Linked DNA regions of Homo sapiens. The protein of the gene in region 1 purifies or fractionates together with the protein of each later gene. This does not show direct contact. Each region holds a gene or a part of one and is shown in the gene's direction. Other genes may lie near its edges. The genes, in order: ASIC5 and BLVRA.

Region 1 (3,817 bases):
ATACTTAGCTTCAGGGAATTTCAGGTCAATAGAGTAGGCAAAATAGACAAATGTAACCAATTTTGGTTTTGAAAATCAAAGAGCTCTGAGAGGAAAATAAAAATGTGTACCAGCTTCTTGATGGAAAATAAGTGAATTGATGTAAACACATCTCCTGAACCCAGTATTTATCTTATCTTAAGACAGTTCATCAAGAATACCCTTGGGGAGAATGCAATCCTAACATCAAGCTGCAGAATTTTAGCAGCTACAGCACTTCTGGTTGCTTGAAGGAATGCAAAGCCCAGCACATAAAAAAGCAATGTGGATGTGTGCCTTTTCTTCTTCCTGGTAAATAAAGACTAACTGCCCCCTTACTTAACTAGACAGTTAAGTGTTTCTTAGAGGGTTACAAAAGGTCTGGGAGAAATAGAGTATTGAAATACAAATGGAATATTAAGTATTATTAAGTGTAATTACAGATGTTGCTGACCCATTCACAGAAAAATTATTATATTCTTAAGCCTGTTCCTTCTCTTTGCAGACTAAAATGACAACTAATAACAAAGTCACCAGAAGTTTAGTCCTAAATTTCTTTGAATTTTATGTTTATATTTACTTAATTTGAAACATAGCAAATCAACATATCACTAAATTGTTTTCCATTCTTCTGAAATTCTACACTGGAAAATTATCCATTTGCCAGGTACAACTTCGACTGACAAATTTTACATTATAAAATCATCGCAGAGATTTCTGGAAGAGAAAATTGCGATATCAGGGTGGGGCCCCAATACTTACTCCCAAAGGCTAAAATTTGATGGTCTCAAATATCTAAAACAGCACACCAAGATTTTCTTAATTTTGAAAGAAAAATTAGATCATGGATATGTCTTACCAAGCCTGAAGATTTCACTGTTGAAAAGTTATTTTCTTTGGGACTGTAAAATTAACTTCAGGCCTCCTTTTCATACAATTTGCAACTTTTCCAGAACCATGGGTGAGAGGCAAGCATTCAAGGAAGCAATGGAGCAGGGTGAATAAGAGCTGGATCTCAACCAGGCTGCTCATGTCGGCTCTACAATTTCTCCCCTAGGTGATCTTGAACAAGTGACCTAACCTCTCTCCTCTGCTGTCAAATGGAGGAGGGGATAATAATCCCATCTTATAGGGTTGTTGTAAGAATGAAAGGGGTATGTAAGTGGTTCAAATAGTGCCTGGCACAGAATATAGTCTATGTAAATGTCAGATATTTGTATTCAGGTCTCTTACATCCCCCTCCCACAGCATATCTAGAAAGATATATTGTAACACAATCTACCTGCCAAAATATTGTAACTGCCCAACGGGCTCACCATGCCTGCTGCCTAGACAGAGCTGATTTATCAAGACAAAGGAATTGCAATAGAGAAAAACTAATTCATGCAGAGCTGGCTGTGCGGGAGATTGGAGTTTTATTATGACTCAAATCAGTCTCCCTGAGTATTCGGAGATAAGAGTTTTTAAGGATAATTTGGTGGGTAGGGGACCAGTGAACCAGTGAATCAGGGGTTCTGATTGGTGAGATCAGAGATGAAATCATGTGGAGTTGAAGCTGTCTTTTTGCGCTGAGTCAATTCCTGGGTAGGGGTCACAAAACCAGATGGGCCAGATTTTTGTTCTGGGTGGTGCCAGCTGATCATTGGAGGCAGGGTCTGCAACATATCTCAAGCACTGATCTTAGCTTTTACAATAGTAATGTTATCACTATAAGCAATTTGGGGCGGTTTAGAATCTTGCACCCTCCAGCTGCATGACCCCTAAACATAATTTCTAATCTTGTGGCTAATTTGTTAGCCCTATATAGGCAATCTAGTCCCCAGGCAGGAAGGGAGTTTATTTTGGGAAAGGGCTGTTATTGTCTTTGTTTCAGAGCTAAACCATAAACTAAGTTCCTCCCAAAGTTAGTTCAGCGAACGCCCAAGAATGAACAAGGACAGCTTGGAGGTTAGAAACAAGATGGAGTCAGTTAGGTCAAATCTCTTTCAATGTAATAATAAAAGTAAAAAATATATAAAATATAAATATAAAATATGTATAAATATAAAATATATATAAAATATAAAAAATATATATTATATTATATATAATATAAAAAATAATAAAAGTAAAAAAGATATAAATTTTGCAAAAGTGGTTTCATTATTTTCCAGAGGTTTCCATAATCATCACATCCTTCTTTTTAGTATCCAGATTATTGATCTCTGGCCACTGCAAAAACTGCTGTTCTATATAAAACTGCTGGCTCTGGCTCTGATTTCTCATTCCTAATTTATTGGCAAAGTTGCTGGAAAGAAGTCTGAATTGTTTCATGCAGAATAATGTTGACAATTTTAAAAGTTATGATTATTAAACCAAAACCTACTGGCTAATGTGGACCAGAAACTAGGCAAGGTGCTATATAAAACACAAAGAATGATATCTGCATGAACTTTAGCATATATATCAAATGCATTCAGGAATATGATCTTATTTGGTTAGATTCTCACACATCCCTTTAAGTGTACTGATATATGAATAAACGGAAGATTCTAAACGTTAAACAAATTCGCTGAGGTAATTCCACTAACAATTTGAGGAAGCAATCTCCAAAACAGCTTTTCAGATATTGGTTATTTCCAAAATTTCATTGTTCTTTTGTTTGTTTGTTTTTATTTTTGTTTTCTGTGTTCCATCTACCATCTTTTTTTTCTGAATTGCTCTTTATAATGGAAGAAATATTATTGCCAGAGCAAGAAATAATTCAGAAAAATGAGGTTTTTTCCTAACTCAGTGTTGGAGGTAGTTTTTTTTTTTTACTTATTGTATTTTATTCATAAAGAGCACTTCCTTACAGTTAGCCAAACATTCCACAAATTGTCCGCACGTTGTAAGTGGACAATCTCCTTTGGTTATTTTCAAGATTACTGACTAAACATTGTGGCTAACTGCTGAGTCACATGGGCTATAGCAATAGACAAATATTGTATTAAGGCTAAAAGACTAAGTCTTTAGAATCAGCCGTAGGAGTAAACCCAGCTCTGATACATAGTGATTTTCTACTTATCTCACAATCTATAGTGGGTACTTAACAAATATTGGTACTTACCTGCCCCCTCCCCATCCTACTTCTGGAATGGCAGTCTGTCAGGAACGTGTGTGTGTGTGTGTGTGTGTGTGTGTGTGTGTGTAAATGGATAGAGGGAGCAGGATGGAAGATGTACAGAATGTGCCAAGTTTCCCCTAACTGTGTGGTCTTGAGCAAGCCACTCTTTCTGAGGCTTAGTTTCTTTATCTGTAAAATGAAAATTCTCATATGACAGGATTGTGAACCATATCAAATGAGATGATAACTGTGAAAGTAATTTTAAATTTGAAAACTACTCACATTTGAAAATTATTATTCCCGCTTAAAGATTTTAGAGTGATATAGACAGATGGAAAGAGGTATGGAAAGAAACAAAAGCATTATTCTTCCTCCCAACACATATTTTCACTGGATACTAACTTGATTCCATAGTTTTGCTTATGAAAGAATAGATGTTCATATAGAAGAATGGGTGGGTGGATGAATGGATGGATAGATGTAGGTAAGAAAGGTATTTTTGTCATTAGATCACTTATTTTACAAAATGTAAAGTCTCTATATGTTACACTTATTATTTTTAAGGATATGGGATAGAATGTGACCTACAAAAGTACTTCAGCTGTGTTTCTCCTGTACTTGGTAAGTGCTTAATTTACTTTTATTTTCAGGATTTATATTAAAGTTGCTCAAAGTAATATAAGACATTAAGTCAAACTATGGATAGCCCAGAAA
Region 2 (4,480 bases), on another chromosome or scaffold:
CCACATCTTTTCACACCCCCGCCACCCCCACCCCCCTGTCCTGCTTTCCACTTGGCATTCCTGCTTCCCAGTTCCCACAGCATTTGTGATTTCCCACAGCTGGCCCGTTGGAAGAAGAGCGGTTTGGCTTCCCTGCATTCAGCGGCATCTCTCGCCTGACCTGGCTGGTCTCCCTCTTTGGGGAGCTTTCTCTTGTGTCTGCCACTTTGGAAGAGCGAAAGGAAGATCAGTATATGAAAATGACAGTGTGTCTGGAGACAGAGAAGAAAAGGTAAGTCATGAGAAGCCATGAGGAGGAGGAAATTTAAGGACATCCTAGTACATTTGCAGGTATGATCCAAAGGGAGCCCCGAGGGGCTAGACCCTCACTCCCAGCTCCAGAAGGGCTGTCTGCTTCTGCAGATGGAGTGCTGAGATTGCACTTGTGTTGCCTCATCTCATCCTCTCAGCAGCCCTGTGAGGTAAAGAAGACAAACATAATCCCATCTGCCAGTCAGTAGACAGAGGCTTACAGAATGCCAGCAGGTTGCCTAAGTCATGCAAGTCATTCATAGCAGATTAGTAGTGGAAATTACATTACCTTGGCTGGGCGTGGTGGCTCAGGCCTATAATCCCAGCACTTGGGGAGGCCAAGGGTGGTGGATCACCTGAGGTCAGGAGTTTGAGACCAGCCTGGCTAACATGGTGAAACCCTGTCTCTACTAAAAATGCAAAAATTAGCCGGTGTGGCGGTGCATGCCTGCAGTCCCAGCTCCTTGGCAGGCTGAGGCAGGAGAATTGCTTGAACCTGGGAGGCAGAGGTTGCAGTGAGCTGAGATCAGGCCACTGCATTTCAGCCTGGGCAACAGAGCGAGACTCCTTCTTGAAAAAAAAGAAAAGAAAAAGAAATTATGTTAACTCTGTGACCTGATTTTTTTCCTGTGTTTTCTTATGAAAGTTTTCGGGCATATTGTGAAGTTGAAAGAATTTTTAAGTAAACACCCATCCACCTACTCCCTAGACCCTGCCATTAACACTGTACATGTTCCCCGCAGGGCCACACATTCACCCCTCAGTGCAGCCAGAGTGTGAGGGTCTGTGTTTCAGCTTTAGCATCCCATCACCCTGTCACACTGTTCCCAAAACATTCTGACTTATTTCTCATACCAGGTCTTTTTTAACAAAAGCACATTCATAATTTTCCTCCCAAAGCACCTGGGCTCTGTAAATTATTTAGAACAGTAAGGGTTTTAGAGTGTTTCTGGATGCCTTTGCAGAGAGGTGGGTCTCCTGGTAGTAAAAGAAGCAGACACTGGGTATTTTAAAAAGAAAAAAGAATTTGAGTTCCTGAATGAAGCCTGATCTAGTCCATTTTGAGGAGTTTCTTCTTCGCTAGGAAAAGGCAGAGAGGCCTGGCAGATGAAAGCAAAGCACATGGAACTTGGCAGTGCTCCCTATGGAGTGACCAACAGTGGTGGCCCGGGCTCTGGTGTGGCCATGTGAGTGTTAGGATTGCAGCCGTGGTCAGACCTATACACAGACAGTTGTAGCACCCTGTAATTAGAGGTAAAGATACTGTAGGGTGCTGTAGGAGCACAGGGAAGGGGAACCTGGACTAGGTCAGCTCATGGTTCTGATGGGAGGCGGTGCCTTGTTTGGTCTTGAAGTTGAGTAGAAGTCAATGAGGAAGCAAGATGTTGGGGAGGCAGAGGCTGACTCTCTCTCTCTTTTTTTTTTTTTTTTATGAGACAAAGTCTTGCTCTGTCACCCAGGCTGGAGTGCGGTGGTGTGATCTCAGCTCACTGCAACCTCCATCTCCCGGGTTCAAGTGATTGTCCTGCCTCAGCCTCCCGAGTAGCTGGGATTATAGGCGCCTGCCACCACGCCCGGCTCATTTTTGTATTGTTAGTAGAGACAAGGTTTCACCATGTTGGTCAGGATGGTCTTGAACTCCTGACCTCAAGTGATCTGCTCACCTTGGCCTCTCAAAATGCTGAGATTACACGCATGAGCCACTGCACCCAGCCCTGGCTCTCATTTTTGCACAGGAGAGGCAAGCATCAGATGAGGGATTGGGACAGAGAGCAGTTAATATAATATAATAGTAACTTCTTAAAATCATAGTACTTTCCGTGTCCCAAATTGCATTTTTAAATTTTTTTATCTATTTATTTATTTATTTTGAGACCGGGTTATGAGACTGGCTGATTTTCGTATTTTTGGGTAAGATGGGTTTTTGCTATACTGTCTAGGCCGGTCTCAAATTCCTGGGCTCAAGCGATCCACCCACATCAGCCTCCACGCCTGGCCACAAACTGCATTTTTATCTCACAATGTCACAGCAAGATAGGTAAAGCTGTATACTTATTACCATTACTTATTTTTACTAGTGAGGAAATTGAGGTACAAGAAAGATCTTGACATTCTGCATTCCCTCAAATCCCAAGATTCCATATTATTTAAAAGGACATGAGAGGCCGGGCACAATGGCTCACGCCTGTAATCCCAGCACTTTGGGAGGCTAAGGCAGTTGGATCACCTGAAGTTGAGAGTTCAAGACCAGCTTGGCCAACATGGTGAAACCTTGTCTCTACTAAAAATACAAAAATTAGCCAGGCGTGGTGGCAGGTGCCTGTAATCCCAGGTACTGGGGAGCCTGAGGCAGGAGAATCGTTTGAACCTGGAGGCAGAGGTTGCAGTGAGCCGAGATTGCACCACTGCACTCCAGCCTGGGCAACAAGAGCAAACATCTCAAAAAAAAGACATGAGAAATTTTCTTAGGCAGACTACGTAGAATACCTCAAGTTTATTTTTATTCAGTGCCAAAATAAAAGTTAATCTTTGTTGCCATCTCCCAGAACATTTGCTAGACTGTACTATGAGCTTTTAAAACTAGTCATGGGAGGCCAGGTGCAGTGGCTCACGCCTGTAATCCCAGCAGTTTGGGAGGCCAAGGCAGGTGGGTCTCTTGAGGTCAGGAATTCAAGACTAGCCTGGCTGACATGGCAAAACCCCATTTCTACTAAAAATATTTTTTTAAAAAGTAGCCAGGCATGGTGGCAGGCGCCTGTAATCCCAGCTACTTGGGAGGCTGAGGCAGGAAAATTGCTTGAACCCAGAAGGCAGAGGTTGCAGTGGGTCGAGATTGCACCACTGCACTCCAGCCTGGGTGACAGAGCAAGGCTCCATCCCAGAAAAAAAAAAGTCACTGAATGAATTCCCCTGCCTGATGGCAAAATTAAATTAAAGACTGTTTGGCTGTGAGGTTGACACAGTCACCCACAGCCTCTGGGAGGCTGGTGGCTGCAAGGAGGATGGGTGCCTGACAAGGACATGTTACCAGGCGGTCTGGTGCCAGCAAGCACCCACTTGTGCTCTTGTGTAATCTCTAACATGATTCTTTTGTCTTTTGTCTTTGCAGTCCACTGTCATGGATTGAAGAAAAAGGACCTGGTCTAAAACGAAACAGATATTTAAGCTTCCATTTCAAGTCTGGGTCCTTGGAGAATGTGCCAAATGTAGGAGTGAATAAGAACATATTTCTGAAAGATCAAAATATATTTGTCCAGAAACTCTTGGGCCAGTTCTCTGAGAAGGAACTGGCTGCTGAAAAGAAACGCATCCTGCACTGCCTGGGGCTTGCAGAAGAAATCCAGAAATATTGCTGTTCAAGGAAGTAAGAGGAGGAGGTGATGTAGCACTTCCAAGATGGCACCAGCATTTGGTTCTTCTCAAGAGTTGACCATTATCTCTATTCTTAAAATTAAACATGTTGGGGAAACAAGAATCTTATTGTTATGAGCTATGTTGGGATATTTGGGGTTAGGGGCTATGCAGTGGGGACAAGGCGAGAATGAGCGTTGGTTGAGCTGAGCTAAATGCTTTGTATGTCTGATTTCACTTACTCCTCCTAACAGCCCTATGAGATGAGTACTAGCAGGCCTCTTTTTTTTTTTTTTTTTTTTTTGAGAGTCTCACTGTGTCACCCAGGATGGAGTGTAGTGGCACCATCTCGGTTCACTGCAGCTTCCACCTCCTGGGTTCAATCAGTTATCCTGCCTCAGTCTCCCAAGGAGCTGAGGATTACAGGCGCGTGCCTAATCCTGGCTAATTTTTGTAGTTTTAGTAGAGATGAGGTTTCGCCACGTTAGCCAGCCTGGTCTCGCTCGAACTCCCAACCTCAGGTAATCCACCTGCCTCGGCCTCCCAAAGTGCTGGGATTAGAGGCATGAGCCACCATGCCTGGCACCAGGTCTCTTTTCATTGTATACTAGAAAATGTTGTTTGAACAGAACCCTCCGAGATGATAGAGTCACCGCCCTTCTGCTCTCGTGTTCTCAGCTGCCCTATCTACCCTGCAGGTTGCTGCTGCTGCTGGAGCCCACGCAGGTCATGTGCCACTGTGGCATTTCCTAAACACTCCTGCCTCTGAAGGTGGCACCCCATGCCCCAGTCACAATTCTTTCAGAGTGTCACAGAAGGAAAGAATCCACATGTATTC

Evidence for each region.
Region 2: the proteins of ASIC5 (region 1) and BLVRA purify together in Homo sapiens (affinity purification with mass spectrometry; one large-scale study listed by BioGRID and IntAct). This does not show direct contact.

What each region holds. Positions count from the first base shown.
Region 1 is NC_000004.12:155,838,720-155,842,536, reverse strand, and holds part of ASIC5 (bile acid-sensitive ion channel), read left to right. Parts: intron 1-182; coding exon 183-330; intron 331-3,667; coding exon 3,668-3,724; intron 3,725-3,817. UniProt on the Homo sapiens protein: Forms bile acid-gated sodium channels and may play a role in bile acid-dependent absorption and secretion by epithelial cells of the bile ducts. Displays high selectivity for sodium ions but can also permit the permeation of other cations.
Region 2 is NC_000007.14:43,803,577-43,808,056, forward strand, and holds the end of BLVRA (biliverdin reductase A), read left to right. Parts: intron 1-99; coding exon 100-271; intron 272-3,400; coding exon 3,401-3,659; 3' UTR 3,660-3,766; downstream 3,767-4,480. UniProt on the Homo sapiens protein: Reduces the gamma-methene bridge of the open tetrapyrrole, biliverdin IXalpha, to bilirubin with the concomitant oxidation of a NADH or NADPH cofactor. Does not reduce bilirubin IXbeta.